Regions from separate parts of the Homo sapiens genome. Here regions 1 and 2 are each linked to region 3. The links come from fine-mapping of genetic effects on gene expression. A gene starts in region 3. Each other region holds a variant in brackets. All regions are shown on one strand. Distances are from middle to middle.

Region 1 (5,222 bases), 24 kb before region 3:
GAGGGTGTTGTCTGCAGAGAGAAGACCCCTGTGCTCAAATCTCAGCACCACCTGCTGCCGTGTGGGTCTCCCTAAGGTCCACTGGGCCCCCATCTCAGGGGCCCTCAGGGAGTGGAGGGGGAGGCCTCCTCAGGGCCTCCTCACACCTGGAGGGGGGTGAAAGGTCTCCAAATGGGAGGCAGGGAGGACTTCACAGCCAGGGCTCTAAACCCAGCCAGGTGGCCTCAGCCATGTCCCCCTGCCTTCCTGGGCCACCTCTGTGAACTGAGAGTCAGGAGCCCACCATGCTGGACTGTGGTGTTGACTACAGAAAAATGTACATAAACATTTGCACAGATCCCAGCAAATACGAGGTACCAAAAAGGAGATCCCTTTCCTTCCTATGCATCAAGCACTTTGTACCAGTTCTCTCATTTGCTAGATTCAATTCTAGAGAGAAGCTCTTGTTCCCGTTTTACAGGCCTTCTCCTATTATTCTGCCATGGAAAATGCAGCTGCTGCCAGAATCAAATGAGACGGCATGAACGAAAGTGCTTAGAGGGTTGGGCGCAGTGGCTGGTGCCTGTAATCCCAGCATTTTGGGAGGCTGAGGCCGGCAGATCGCTTGAGCCCAGGAGTTCAAGACCAGCCTGGCCAACATGGCAAAACCCTGTCTCTACTAAAAAATAGAAAAAATTAGCCAGGTGTGGTGATGGGCCCCTGTAGTCCCAGCTATTAGGGAGGCTGAGGAGGGAAGATCACTTGAGCCCAGGAGGTCAAGGCTGCAGTGAGCCATGATCGTGCCACTACACTGCAACCTGGGTGACAGAGTGAGACCCTGTCTCAAAAGAAAAAAAGAAAGAAAGGAAGGAAGGAAGGAAGGGTTTAGGGAAACACTTTTACACTTTTGTGACACCGGCCGGGCGCGGTGGCTCATGCCTGTAATCCCAGCACTTTGGGAGGCCAAAGTGGATGGATCACCTGAGGTCAGGAGTTCGAGACCAGCTTGGCCAACATGACGAAACCCCGTCTCTACTAAAAATACAAAAATTAGTCGGGCATGGTGGCACGTGCCTGTAATCCCAGCTACTTGGGAGGCTGAGGCGAGAGAATTGCTTGAATCCAGGAGGCAGAGGGTGCAGTGAGCTGAGATTGCACCGCTGCACCACTGCCTAGGTGACAACAGCGAAACTCTGTCTCAAAAAAAAAAAAATTGTGACACCAGGGAGACAAAGGAATGGTGCTGTTATTACTATGATGGTCTGGTGCCCAGGGGACCTCCTGGTCAGCTGGGTGAGGGGCTCAGAGAACCCTTGACTTGAGGACAATAACTTCTTCCTTTTTTCTCCATTTTGGGCTTCCTCTTTGCACAGGCCCTGCTGTGGGCAGCCTGGGCCCTGGCGGGGAAGGGGGTCATCCCCCTGGTCGAGGAGGACCACAGGGAGGCCTGGCCTAAGCAGCCTGCCAGGGCAGGGTGCCTGTTCCCACAGGCCTTGCTGGCAGAGTCAGATGCCTGCAGCTGTTCTTAGGCAGTGCCCCAGCCAGGGGTCAGAGGCTCTGTGCCATGTCCAGACCAAGCTGGCAGGGCTTGGGCCAGCAGCTGGGACCAGGGTAAAGAGGCCCCTGAGTCCTGAGAGGCCAAGAAACAAGAGGGCTCTCAAAGGAGCCTGGTCCCTGACTGTTTCACCTCCTTGCGCCCCTTGCACATGGGCTGGAAGGAGGGCTTTGCAGGAGGAGGTGGTCAGCAGGACCTAGGAAGGGGAGGAGCAGGTTTGGGACACCCCTCTGGGACATCAGAAGAGAGCAGCCATCTGGGGCGGGTCTTAGTGGGGGAATCAAGAACCACAACCCGTAGAGATGGCTCAGAAATTTGGGGTATCTTGAAACGTGTGTCTCTTGTTTGCCAATTACTTTGTCACCCTTCTCTGTGATGCAGCAGAGAGCTGCAGGAAAAATACAAGAGTCTGTGGGCTCTTCCTTGGGGATATAAGAAGAGGGAGGAGCTGGAGAGGAAATGAGAGATGCCCTGAAAGCCCTTGTCACTTCTCAGGAGCCCGGTATTCTCCTGCCCCTCACTGTGGCAGCTGCCTGGTCATAGGTATTTTTTCTCACTAGACTGTGAGATCTGTGGGGACAGGGACTGTGTCTCTACCATTCCCTGTCACCTGGTCAGAGCGGACCTTCAGCACATTTTCAAAAGCACAAAGAAAAGTCCAGTGAAGGTGAAGACAGCTGTAAATACTGAAAAGCCACTGAGTGGCCCTGCAGGTTGGTTCTGCCATCTCATCCCAATGACCCCCTGAGTGGGGTGTTATCCTCATATGTGAATGAGCAGAGGGCACCCAACAGGTAATCAATGGGTGGAACTGAATCTGGGGTGGTCCCACTGCAGAGAAGATGAGGGGATTCCTAGGAGGCATCCATCCCTGACTCCCCAGGGTCCCCATTCCCCTCCTACTCACCTGCCACCGCCTCGGTCACCTCCTGCTTGCCTGCCTTGTAGTAGGTGAAGCCCCGGATCACAGCCTGCTGCTGGGCCAGGGCGCGGGGCTTGGCTGTGGGCTGGAGGAAACTGCCCTTGCCGCTCTCCTTTCTCAGCTTCTCCACCTGAAGCAGCTTCTCCTTGGGAGGTTTTGGGAGGCCTCTGTCTGCAAAGCTTTTCTGCACACTGCCATACTTGCTGATGTCCTTGCCTTTTCCTCTAGCTGTGTCCTGGGAGGGAAGAGAAGTCTCAGACTTGAAGGACAGTAGAAGAAATGTTGTGGGGAGTCCTGGGGGCTCAGCATGTGGGGACTGGAGGTGGCCATGTTGCCCCAGGCCCTATGTCCCAAGCACTCACAAAGTCACAGCTTTCCTTTACCCCACCATGGTGGCTACATCCATGACTGGTTTGCCTCAGTTTCCTCACCCAGCTCTTTAGCTCCCTTGCAGGCTTGAAGTCCAACCTGATAGGTTAGATTCCTGTCCCACTTCTCAACTCCTGTCCAATCCCCCTGGGGGGCAGGCTAGAAGGACCAGCTCCCTGGGAGGCAGCCTCCTC[C/T]ACCTGCTCACCTTCCCAGCCTTGTCTCTCTTACTCATTGGTCTTAGTACGTGGGCAGGGGAGAGGTTCTTAGGCACCTAGGCAAGGTGACCAACTCATCCCAGAGTGCCTGGAACATTCCTAGTTTTAGCACTGAAAGTGCTGCATCCTGGAAAAACCCTCAAGTCCCAGGCAAACTGGGACAGGGTTGGTCACCCAACCTCTAGGATATGCCATTTCTAACTTTTTGTGTTTTGTTATTTTCACTTCCTATTTAAATGCCTCCGATGCTGGCTTGGCACAAGAACACAGGGCCTGTGACATCACTCATCGTTAGGCAGAAGCTCCAGCAGATACGGCAAGTACAGTAGCTGGGTGCCTTCTGCACCATTGCCAAAACACGCTTCATTCTCGCCTGCGGAATTGGCACGGGAATGAGCAGGAAGCCAGCTGGGGGCCAAGGCACAGGCTTCCTAGCTGCTTTATCGGCATCTAGGCAGTCCCAGTTGCAGACACAAATGGCCGCATTATCACAATGTCAGCAAAGGAGACCGAGATGTGGAGAAGAAGAGAGGAAGAGGGTGGGCTTGGCAGTCACGCAGACCTGGCTGCCAGTCCCAGCTCCGCCACCGCCTCTCCATGTGACCTCTCTCCATGCCTCATCTGCCAAATGGGCAGGGGTCGCCCCTCCTCCCAGGTGACTATGGGGTTCACTGACAATGTCTGTGAGAAAGTCAAGTTTAAAGTAGGAATTCCACAAATGTCAGCTCCCTTCTTCAGCCACTCACCAAAACACAAGGCCAGTGTGAACAATGGTGTGGCTTGTGTCTTGCCCAAGGGTGACTGGCCAGAGGAGCCTGAATGGGGTTGAATCCAGTCTGCACTCCATTTGCCAAGCCACATACCCAGCAAAGGCAGGAGCCTCTGTGCAACCGGCTCACCCAAAAGTGGTTGTTCCTTCTAATTGATCTGCTCAGAGGGAGAACCAGCTTCACAGTTCATCTGCCTACAGAGAGGACGTTTATCACATTTGCACGCAGGTGTGTTATCTGTCATGGGTGGCTCTGCCTAGTGACAGAACCAGTGCCTCTGCTCACTCTGCTCTGAGCTTGGAGGTCGAGTGCCTGGGTATTGGCTGCAGGGGTTCTGTACCCCAGGGTGGGTTGGATGAATGGGTATCAGTCTGCAGGGGTCCCTGAGGCATTGCCCACCTCCCTCTGAGCAGGCTCAACCCAGCCACAGCAGGGGAGGCTAGAAGTGGTTTTGCTGCAGCCAACCTGGTCTCTGAGGGCCAGGCAGGGGGCACCACCTCCACAAGCTTGTCCCTACTAGTTTCAAGCTTGGGAATGAGAAGGATGCCAAACACCTGGCTTAGGGACCAGCCCCCTTGGCAGGATCCCCAGGCCTATCCCCCATTCCCTGTGCTGACTGTGCTTGCTGTACAGCAGGTATCCCCTGCACCTCACCCTGCCAGGGACTCTCTGGCTGTGCCAGTCCTCAACCCCATCTTACAGCCCCAAACCCCCATCGAGCTGATCCACAGGGCCAACGTCCTGGCACACTGAGCTCCCAAGTTCAGCCAGCTCCGGCCCCATGATCAGAGCTGGGGCCTCACCTGGGCCTTGCTACCAGTGCCCGTGGCAGGGGTGGCAGGGGCGGCGGCGGCATCCTTCTGCAGCAGCTGGAGGCCCAGGCGGGACAGCTCCTTCTTGATGCCCAGCATGATGGCAGAGTGATTCTCATAGTGCCTCAACTGCTCACTGAGGTGGCGCACGCTGTCCTTCACCACCTCATTCTCCCGGCTCAGGTTGGCCTTGATGCTCTGCGGAGGGGGCAGGATTGGAGGTCTTTCCTGGGCCAGCTTCCTCTGAACCCCTAGCCTGGAGGGACACCCCAGCTTTGGTCATTAGGCTTTGCTGCCCAGTCCCCCGAACGGGCTAGGGGCGGCCGCAGTGAGCATGAGCAGGAAAAATAGGCTCCAAGAGACCCTGTGTTTATGAACTTTTTAAATTTAAAAAGTGAAGGAATTAAAAAAATAGATAATACATGTGCATGGTACTAAATGTAAAAGATATCAACGGCTATAAAAAGTCACCCTCCCACCTTTATTTCTCAGTGCCAACAGTTATTATAGGTTCCTTGTATATCCTTCTAAAGAGAGTCTGTATATTTACGGGAACACATGTATACATACACACATATTTTTACCACTTTTCTTTTTTGC
Region 2 (5,222 bases), 170 kb before region 3:
TGTAAGTTGATTTTGCATTGGTAATTTGGAAATAAGATTTATTAACATTCCCTGTATTTAGTATTTTATATTCATGCACAAAATTTTTATTATCTTAAATAGGACTCAGTGTATATTATAAAGATTTTTCTTTTTTGTGTTTTCCTTCCCTGTCATTCCCTTTATAATTTCACAGTCACTTGCTATGAAGTCCTCCCTCCTTTTTGATTATGCAGCATTCAATTTCAGAAATCTATGAATGAGAAGGCCTTATACCTAATTTTCTGTACAGGATCACATCTGGCAGTCCCAGGAGAAGTGAGCTGATTGCTTTTGATATCTCTTTCCCATGGCCCTAGGTAAATTATACTCTAAATTTATTTATTTTTTTTGAAACAGAGTCTTGCTTTTGTTGCCCAGGTTGGAGTGCAGTGGGGCTATCTCGGCTCACTGCAACCTCCGCCTCCCAGGTTCAAGCAATTTTCCTGCCTCAGCCTCCCGAGTAGCTGGGATTACAGGTGCCCGCCACCATGCCTGGCTAATTTTTGTATTTTTAGTAGAGACGGGGTTTCACCATGTTGGTCAGGCTGGTCTCAAACTCCTGACCTTGTGATCTGCCTGCCTCAGCCTCCCAAAGTGCTGGGATTACAGGCGTGAGCCACCGCACCTGGCTATTATTTTTAACTTGGTTTTCATTTCTGGCATAGAGACTAATTTGGGTCTAAGTTATTCCCATTCCTGCTTTGATTTGCTGATTTTTCAAACCTGAAGTCCAAAGTTACTGTTTTTGGGGTTTGGGGACTTGGGGAGTATTTTACTTTTTTTTTTTTTTTTTTTTAAGAGACAGAGTCTTGCTTTGTTGCCCAGGTTGGGGTGCAGCGGTACATTCATGGCTCACTGCAGCCTCAAATTCCTGGATTCAGGCAATCTTCTCACCTCAGCCTCCCAAGTAGCTGGGACTACAGGCATGCGCCACCATGCCTGGCTAATTTTCTTTATTTTTTAATTTTTTGTAGAGACATGGTCTCACTTTGTTGAGCAGGCTGGCCTCAAACTCCTGGGCTCAAGTGATCCTCCTGCCTCAACCTCCCAAAGTGCTAGGATTACAGGTGTGAGCCACTGTACCTGGCCTGTTTACTTTTTAAAAATTTTTTTGTTTGTTCTTTCAAACAGTATTTCAGAAAGCTTGGGAAAAGTTACCCTGGAAAGATTTCCTTTGCTAGTGGGTTTTCATTTTCAGGTAAAGACTGCTTTCCTTTTTTTTCAGTATCTTAATAAACTTCATAGCTTTCCTTTAGTAACAGTGTTCATTGAACTACAGCAATAGACTATCTTCGGTTTTCTGACCTCTTGTTTCAATTCCCCTTAAGTCCTGTGCCAGTTATGCTCCTACCAACACAGAGTTTCCTGTCCTCTAATGTTTAAAATAGTATTTACTGTTCTGAGCTTTATCCTCCCCCGTTAAGCATAAAGAACACTGGTCTGAGAACTAGGAGACCTAAGTTCTAGTCCTGGCTTTCCTGGTAACTTAAGCGTTATGCCCTTTGACAACTGTCTTCATGTCTCTGCTTGTTAGCACTCTCATCTGTAAAATGAAGAGGTTGGCCCAGGTCTTCTCCAACTCTGATTCTGTAATTTGGACTCTTGGTTCCAAAAATATTGATTTCCCCACTCCAACCACCAAGAGAACTATTTACCCTGTTTGTAGTGTACACAACCTTTTCTTTTGTAAGTCATATTTACCTAGATTTTGTTCAAGAAAATCTGGGTCCCACTTAGCTGTTTTAGAAACTAGTACAGACAGAGACTCTCCTGAGGAAATTAGAGCTTTTATGATTAGAAACATGCTTGTCTAAAAATGAGGGTCTTAGAAATCACAACATTGACCCTTATGATGTTGCCCCTTAAGCTAATAGTGTAATTCCTTACTGGTAGTTAAAAATCTAAAGTGGACTGAAGTGATCTTGAATCTTCAAAGAGAGGAAAACTGTGCTGGAAAATGTTATTGTTTCATTGATGCCTTCAAAAAAATGCGTATTAAACAAAGACTATACTCCAGATTTTCTTCTGGGCATTGGGGAAGCAAACAAAATAGACTTAAAAATCCTCATGTTCATGAAGCTTACATTCTAGTAGAAGGAGTAAGGCAATAAACATAAGTAATTTATGTTAGAAAATGTTAAGTAGGATGGAAAAGTGTAGATTATGGTAAGGTAAATCTTTTGTTTGTTTTCTTAAGAGAAGAACAATGTTTAAAAGAGTGATCAAGCAGGGCATGGTGGCATGACCCTATTAGTCCCAGCTACCTGGGAGGCCGAGGTGGGAGGGTCACTTGAGCCCAGGAGTTTGTGGCTGCAGTGAGCTGTGATTGCACCACTGCACTCCAGCCTGGATGGCAAAGCAAGACCTCGTCTCTGGAAAAAAAGAAAAGAAAAAGTGATGATCAGGGTAGGCTTCATTAGGAAGGTCACATTTGCATGAACACTTTGCCTTTTCTTTCTTTTTATGAAAGTTTTAAACATAGTTTTTTTGTTTTTTGTTTTTGAGACGGAGTTTCACTCTTGTTACTCAGGCTGCAGTGTGGTGGCAGGATCTCAGCTCACTGCAACCTCCACCTTCCAGTTTCAAGTGATTCTCCTGCCTCAGCCTCCCCAGTAGCTGGGATTACAGGCATGTGCCACCACACCCAGCTAATTTTGTGTTTTGAGATGGGGTTTCACCATGTTGGTCAGGCTGGTCTCGAACTCCTGATTTGAGGTGATCCGTTGGCCTCGGCCTCCCAAAGTGCTGGGATTACAGGCATGAGCCACCACGCCCAGCCTAAACATACAGTTTAATAAATCCTCCTTGTACCT[T/C]ACCCAGCTTCTGTATTTCTTTAATCAAGGGAGAAGAATTATCTAAAAGGACAGTTGCCCAATGGGCTTGAGCTGATGATAGTGGCAAAGAATTTCATTTTTTAAAAATGCATACCACCTGCCCTTTATAAAAAAATTTAAACCCTAATGTATTTAATTTTATAATTCATAAAAATTTAAATATTGGAACTAAGAACAGAGCAAAGCAAAGGGAAAAAGCACTCCTTTGTTTTCAAATTGCACAAACTGTCCCTGGAGATTCTGATAGTCTCTCATCTCTCTTAACTATCACTGTAAACAACATAGAAAGCATAAGACTGCAAGAAGTCAGTTATACACAAAACAAAATGAAGCACAGTGGAATTTTCTCTTTCTTTATCTGTATATTTCTGAAGTTGGTAAAGCAACTATCTTCTCTATTTTACAGAAGAGAAAGCTGAGACCCAAAAAGCTATTCATAGTGATAGAGCTAGAACTAAAACTCAGATCTCCTCATCTCAGCCCAGTCTTCTCAGTAGCTCAGACTGCTTTCTATAATGAACAAGAAAGAATAATTAGGGATTTGTATTTTGGCACAAAACAGTATCAAATTTTTATTGTAAAAATCCACAAATCTGACATTTTATCTTTTATTCTAGCCAGGATGTATTCTTCATTTGCATGTGTGTGTTTCTCTTAGAAAGTGGTGCTCTCAAACCTTTCAAAGCACAGAATTTATTGTACCCTCTTTATTTTTACCAAATTGAAACGTTTCAGGATTTCAGAAGCAAAGTGCAATCCAATTGTGGCTGGAGTTTTCCTGATAGAGGATCCGGGTGGTTCCCTCCCCTCCAACTTCTGGCTACTGCCCTTTATTTCCTTTGTGCAATAGAATTCCCTGAAACAGATTATGTCGTAATTATACTGATTTAGTCAGGATAATGGGAAAAGCGACAAATCGGATTTATGTATTAGGTATTATGGAGCTTTCTTTAGCACTCTCCTCCAAGTTTAATCTCTGACATGTGTGATATAGTAACTTTCTGTCTCTGAGAAGCAGTTTGGACCCAGCTGAAAAATTTTATTTATGGAGACTTGTAATCAGCCTGATATACAGAGAACACTCTGGACTGGAAATATAGTCAGGTACCAAGGTCTGCTAATTTGGCCATTGCCAGTGATTCAAAACCACCTCCCCACCCTGAGTAAAAGATTTGATATGAATATGAATGCTATGAGTCTCCTGGTGATGTTTTGGGTGTATATGTTCCTGTGTGTGTTTGGAAATCATAGAGGGTATTTACCTTGAGGGCTCTTTTGTTGACCTTATTTATTTGAAATTCTTATTTTATTTGTAATGGCATATGTATATTTTTGTGATGCTACATGCAATCTCTGTGTATACTTTTTGTATATATGTATACATATTTGTAAATATATTGGTATGCAGTGATACAGTATGTGTATATTATGTACCCATACCCATTGTGGGCTGAATTTATTTAAGTTCTGTGAGGACATCCTAGTGGCATTGTTCATGCTGCTGTAATTAGGTTGTGGCTGTATCTCATTCATAAGCCTCTATTTTGAGAGGCTTGTGTTTGGATAAAATGGGCTAATTTGGAGTTGAAATTAGGATATGAAGATCTTAACAGAAAGCTAGATATTTATTCTTAGCTTTAAAATCACCTGCAAATTTTTATTTAAACTGATGATAAATTAGTGATATAACCTGAAAAACCTAAGTATGTGAAACTGAGACACCAGCAGATTCTTAGGCTGTAGTAGTCCTTTATTTTCTTGATCCATATTTAAGTATTATTACTGAGTAGTAAATTATGTATATTGGGGCTTAATAGAGAGGCTGTGGAAAAAAATTGCTTTAATCACATTTAAAAACATAGGAAAATGTCCATTAAATAGGGGAAATATATTCCCAGTTGTCATTTTTATGCCTCATACTGAATTTTGATTTTGGAACAATTCTTTTTTCATCAGTGTTTTATGTGTCTCTATGAGGCAGAAAAGGGGGCATTAGCTAAGGGATGGCCTAACCTAAGTAGGATAGGATTTAGTGAGGAACGGGAGGTTGTTAATTTGTATATTTGCAGCAGCTATGATTAATTTAGTCCTGTCTTGGCATTTCCGGCTACAGATTTTTTCTTACTGGACTTGCATATCAAAGGTGAGTAGGCTCATCTGAGAAAATGCTTCCACTGAATAAAATGCCTTCACTCGTATTGCTGTGTCTCTATGAGACCACTTGTGTTCTGCAAGTTGATGATATATTCGCACATGAAGTAGAGTTTTTAATATTAGATGCATGGTGTGCTATAAAAATCTGGGCCTTCAAACCTCTCCCAAGGATGATAGGGTTGGGGAGGATAAGAGGATAGTAAATACGTGCAA
Region 3 (5,222 bases):
CTGGCTGGGCTCCCACAGTCCTTTGGGCTTCCCTCTGTCCTTGGGCCCCTGATCAGCAGGCTGACCAAAGACCCCCTCCCCACCCCTTGATGCTGGAGGGAGTGAGGCACCGGCAGCCCTTTCACAGATGGGGAAACTGAGGTAGAGATGGAAAATTCTCAGTCACATTCCAAGAACCCACAGCAAGAAGCAGCTCCCCAGAGGTCTGCGGTGCTATGCCTGGGTGTCATGTGGTTACCTGTCCATTCCAACCTCTGTGCTGGGCAGCCCTTCAGAAATACCAGGGAAGCTGTGGGGTCCCCCTCCTCCTCCCAGCCCCGACAAAGCACTTCCTTAGATGGAAACTCAAAATCCAGTTTAGGAGAGACCTAGTTATAAACATGAAATGAAAACACGTTGAGCAAGGAGCTGGCCAAGGAGACCAACAGAGTCCTGGGGTGAGCTGCCCTGGACCCCTGAATGTGCTGGGCCAGAGGGCAGACTAGAGCTCCCAGGAACAGGAAGCCCAAGGAGGGGCCAACTTAACCCTTTAGGGCCCTACATTGACTTCAAGTCCCAGGCTGGCCCTCCGAAGGGCTCATCCTCCACCCCAGGGAAAACGGAATGGGCTTGGAGAGGAAGGCGGGGTTGTGATGGGGGAAGGAGCGAGTGATAATGAAAACAGCTCTCTCTGCAGAGCCAGCAGGAGTCTGGCTCAGCTAAGGAATGCAGAGTAAATTCACCCATCACTTGATTTTTATTTTTCCCAGCTGGCTGAAGTGGTTTGGGGGTGGGAGGTGTCTGGGGGAGGGCTGTGCTGAGTCCCCCAGCTGTTCATCCTGCAAGCTCTAGGTTGTGCCTCTCCACCCCACCAGCCCCAGCTTGTCCTGGGACAGCTAAACACCCCCCCCCCACCACACACACACACAACCTAGCAAGTGTTTGGCTGACTCACTACACAAACAGGGTGTTGGGTTTTCTTTGTCTCTGCTTTGTTTAGAATGTGAGCTCTCCCCCACAAGCTCTACAGCTCTCTGCACAGACGATGCCCAACACCAAATATCCCTCCCAGCCAGAGATCCCAGTGGTGACAAGGCACTGATCAGGTTACCTAGGATTTTCTACTCACTTGTCATCATACCTGAGCCAGATCAGGGAATCCCAGAGGGCCCCATATGGAAGGAAGGTTGGGGAGATGTTTCTTAGATGAAGAAACTGAAGCCCAGAGACAGGCAGTGATTTGCCCAAGGTCACACAGCAGAAGAATAGCAGAGGAAGGCCAGAACCTAGGGTTTTAAATGTACAAGCCAGCTGCCTCTGTAAACACCCTAGTTTCCCCACCTGTAAATTAGAAAAAATACTCATTCCCTCCTTGTCTCTGGAGTACATGAGCAGCGTTGTACGTGGGTGCTTTCATGCCCTGAGCTGAATCAGGCTGAGAGTTGGCCAGTGCCCACTGCTCATATACTCACCGTGTGGCTAGTGGCTTCTGTCTTTTATCTGTCCGTGGGCAGGCAGGACACTCACATTCTACCAGGAAAGAGGCTGGAGAGGTATTGGAAGTCACTTTTTTGCCCTCACGCTCTGTGACCAGGGCTCTGGTCCTGCTCCTCACTCTCCCCAAGGTCTGTCCGTTTTTTTTTTTGTTTGTTTTGTTTTGTTTTAAGACACAATCTTGCTCTGTTCCCCAGGTTGGAGTGCACTGGCGCAATCTCCACTGACTGCAACCTCCGCCTGCTGGGTTCAAGCGATTCTCCTGCTTCAGCCTCCCGAGTAGCTGGGATTACAGGTGTGCACCACCACACCTGGCTAATTTAATTTAATTTTTTTTTTTTTTATAGAGACGGGGTCTCACTCTGTTGCCTAGACTGGTCTTGTGCCACTGCGCCCAGCTAATTTTTGTATTTTTAGTAGAGATGGGGTTTCACCATATTGGCCAGGCTGGTCCTGAACTCCTGGCCTCAAGCGATCCACCTGCCTTGGCCTCCCAAAGTGCTAGGATTACAGGTGTGAGCCACTGAACCTGGCCATCAGGGAGTCATTTCCAGAACACCCCAAGTGCTCTGGTGCTAAGTATTTTTTTTTTTTCTTTTTTTTTTTGACACGGAGTCTCGCTCTGTCGCCCAGGCTGGAGTGCAGTGGCGCGATCTCGGCTCACTGCAAGCTCCGCCTCCCGGGTTCACGCCATTCTCCTACCTCAGCTTCCGGAGTAGCTGGGACTACAGGCGCCCACCACCATGCCTGGCTACTTTTTTTTGTATTTTTAGTAGAGACGGGGTTTCACCGTGTTAGCCAGGATGGTCTCGATCTCCTGACCTTGTGATCCGCCCGTCTCGGCCTCCCAAAGTGCTGGGATTACAGGCGTGAGCCACCGCGCCCGGCCTAGTGCTAAGTACTTTACAGGCATGACCACACCGCATCTAGAGACCATCAACTGCAGGAAGTGGGTCCCATGATTCTCCCTGTATCTACAGGTGAATAGACGGAGGCTCAGATGGGCGATGGCGGATGAGAAGCGGATGTGCGACTGAACCCAGGTCGGCTTGACACCAGAGCAGATCCTCTTAGCCACAGCAGAGAACAGCTCAGACCACTTCTGGAGCTACCTAGTCCTCCAGGGGGTGCACCCGGTCCCTGGCAAGAACATCAGAGGCCAGGCGAGTGGCCAGCGCGGCTGCGTTCATCGGGTAGAGAAGACCCCCAGTCCCCAGCGGGCCGTGAAAGCCGTGGCCCAGGGCTTGCTGCAAGCCTGGGAGTCGTTGGGTAACAGTTGCCAGGAGCTTCCCCTACGAACCCCGAGTCTGGCCAGCACTCCGGGGAAATCCCCCGACCCCTCCGGGAATCGGACCCGGTCCCAGCGCCCCTTCCTCAGGCCCCGGGTCCCTAGCATCCCTACATCTCCAGCGCTTGTTCCTCCACGCGCCCCTCTCTCGGGGCCCCTGCCCCTGCGGCTTCAGTGCTGAGAAGTCCCAGGTTCGGTCTCTCAGCTCCCGGCTCCTCCGCCCTGGCCCCGGGCTCCCTCCCGGGCCGCACCCCAGCCACAGCGCCCCCTCGCGCCCCGCTACCCGCCGAGCCGCGCGGGTCCGAGGGGCGTGCGTACCTTACTGTCGGCGCGCGTGGGGCGGCCGCTCAGCAGCAGCACTAGCGGCAGAAGGAGCAGCGGCCGGGGCGGGAGGGCGGCAGCGGCCATGGCGCCACGGGCACGGTAGGCACAGGCGGCCGGGCACGGACGCTGGGAAGCGCGGGCTGCACTGCGAGCTCCGCGCCTTCGCCCGCTCTGCCTGCCCCGCGCCCCGCGCCTGCACCCTGCTGCCAGCCCCGCGGGTCTTCCAGCGCCGCCAGGGGCGGAGCTAGGGCGGAGGGGGCACCCCGCCCCGCCCCGCCCGCCGTTCGCGGGGCCTCCCCGTCGTCGGGCGGCTCTCCCAAGGGCATCCCTGCCCGCGCGCCAGGGTGGGTCTCGATCGCAGCCGGCAGGAGCAACGGGGCCAGGGCGAGGCGCGTGGGCTCCTCTCACGGACTCAGGTCCTGTCCTGTGAGTCGTGGGACCTTGGGCGTGTCCCTTCACCTGTGTGCCTCAGTTTCCTCATCTGTAAGATGGGGGACTCGTGCTTTCCTTTTGGAGTGTTTGTAAAGTTCGCATGAGAGACGGATGTTCCCAGGGCACGTGAGCCCTTGCGCTCTCCGATTTCACCCACTTCTGGACAGGGACCTGACTGCTGTAAGCCTTCCCAAGGCTCAGCAACCCCAACCTGTCTTCCGTCTTTCATTTCTCCTTCCCTCTGGAATCCCTCCTGTCGGCTCCCAAACTCCAGTAGCTTCCGGCTTTTAAATTTTTATTTTTCTCACTCTGTTGCCCAGGCCGTAGTGCAGTGGTGCGATCCCAGCTCACTACAGCCTTGACCTTCCCAGCTCAAGTGATCCTCCCACCTCAGCCTCCTGAGTAGCTGAAACTACAGGTGTGCACCACTACACCTGGCTAATTTAAAGTTTTTTTTTTTTTTGCAGAGACGGGGTCTCACTCTGTTGCCTAGACTGGTCTTGAACTTCTGGGCTCAAGCAATCCTCCCACCTTGGCCTCCGAAAGTGTTGAGATTACAGGCATGAGCCACTGCACCCAGCATTTCCTTTTTTTTTTTTGACTGGGTCTTCCTTTGTCACCCAGGCTGGAGTGCTGTGTTGCGAATACAGCTCACTGTATCGTCAACTTTCCAGCTCAAGCTATCCTCCTCCCTCAGCCTTCTGAATAACTTGGACTACAGGCATGTGCCACCATGCTGGCTAATTTCTGTATTTATTTTAGGGATGGGGTCTTCTGTGTTGCCCAGGCTCTCAAACTCCCGGGCTCAAGCAATCCAGCCACCCTAGTCTCTCAAAGTGTTGGGATTACAAGTGTGAGCCACCATGCTTGGTCTCATTTTCTTCATAGAATTTATTGCTCAATGGGACTGTCTTTCTTGTTGGTGTGTTTGTTTCCTTGTGTTGGAGCATGACTTCCTAGGGCACATTCTTAGTTTCTCCCCATGAACATTGAACTCAGTGGTTCTCAAAGTGTGGTCCTTGGTCTCAGCCTCCGCATCATCGGATAACTTGTTAAAAATGCAAACTCTCCCAGCCTGGGCAACATGGTGAAAACTCGCCTCTACTAAAAATACAAAAATTAGGCTGATGTGGTGGTGCATGCCTATAATCCCAGCTACTCGGGAGGCTGGGGCAGGAGAATCGCTTGTGAACCCGGGAGGCAGAGGTTGCAGTGAGCCGAGATGGCACCACTGCACTCCAGCCTGGGCAAGAGTGACACTCTGTCTCAAAAACAAACAAACAAACCCAAAAAACAAAACTTAGCTGGGCGTGGTGGCACATGCCTGTAGTCCCAGCTACTTGGGAGGCTGAGGCACAAAAATCACTTGAACCCAGGAGGCAGAGGCTGTAGTGAGCCAAGATCGTGACACTGTACTCCAGCCTGGGTGACAGAGCGAGACCTTCTCAAAGAAAAAAAAAAGAAAAAGAAATGCAAATTCTTAGGCCCCACTACAGACTCACAAAATCAGAAACTCTGGGCATGGAGTCCAGCAATCTGTGTTTTAACACACCCTCCAGGGCTCCAGGGGGCTTAGGGTTTGAGAACCACTGACCTGGCACAAGGTACGGTGCTCTACAACTCTCAGCTGAATTAAAGAACCCTGTGCAAAGCACACACTGAGTACAAATAAGCTGCTGCTGCTTCTTTTTTTTTTTTTTTTTCT

What was found. PIP is the estimated chance that this variant, and not a neighbour inherited with it, causes the effect.
Region 1: its variant is the best candidate, but not a certain one, in a credible set for the expression of OLFML2A in pancreas (GTEx, PIP 0.84).
Region 2: its variant is the best candidate, but not a certain one, in a credible set for the expression of OLFML2A in amygdala (GTEx, PIP 0.53).

The regions. Positions count from the first base shown.
Region 1 is chr9:124,798,883-124,804,104 of GRCh38, reverse strand. OLFML2A (olfactomedin like 2A) reads right to left here. Exons shown (of 8, transcript NM_182487.4): 4 at 4,614-4,820; 5 at 2,442-2,691; 6 at 1-11. Among named protein-coding and RNA genes, the nearest start is that of OLFML2A, 24 kb to the right of the region's middle. RefSeq lists enhancers at 4,150-4,663, 4,664-5,178. The variant C/T (reference allele first, on the strand shown) is at 3,020.
Region 2 is chr9:124,946,655-124,951,876 of GRCh38, reverse strand. It overlaps SCAI (suppressor of cancer cell invasion), which reads left to right. Exons shown (of 18, transcript NM_001144877.3): 18 at 1-5,222. It also overlaps a transcript of GOLGA1 not described here. Among named protein-coding and RNA genes, the nearest start is that of GOLGA1, 8.2 kb to the right of the region's middle. RefSeq lists an enhancer at 1,444-1,493. The variant T/C (reference allele first, on the strand shown) is at 2,835.
Region 3 is chr9:124,775,218-124,780,439 of GRCh38, reverse strand. OLFML2A (olfactomedin like 2A) reads right to left here and starts at 3,307. Exons shown (of 8, transcript NM_182487.4): 1 at 3,080-3,307. The coding sequence starts at 3,169. RefSeq lists silencers at 2,934-3,233, 3,304-3,403.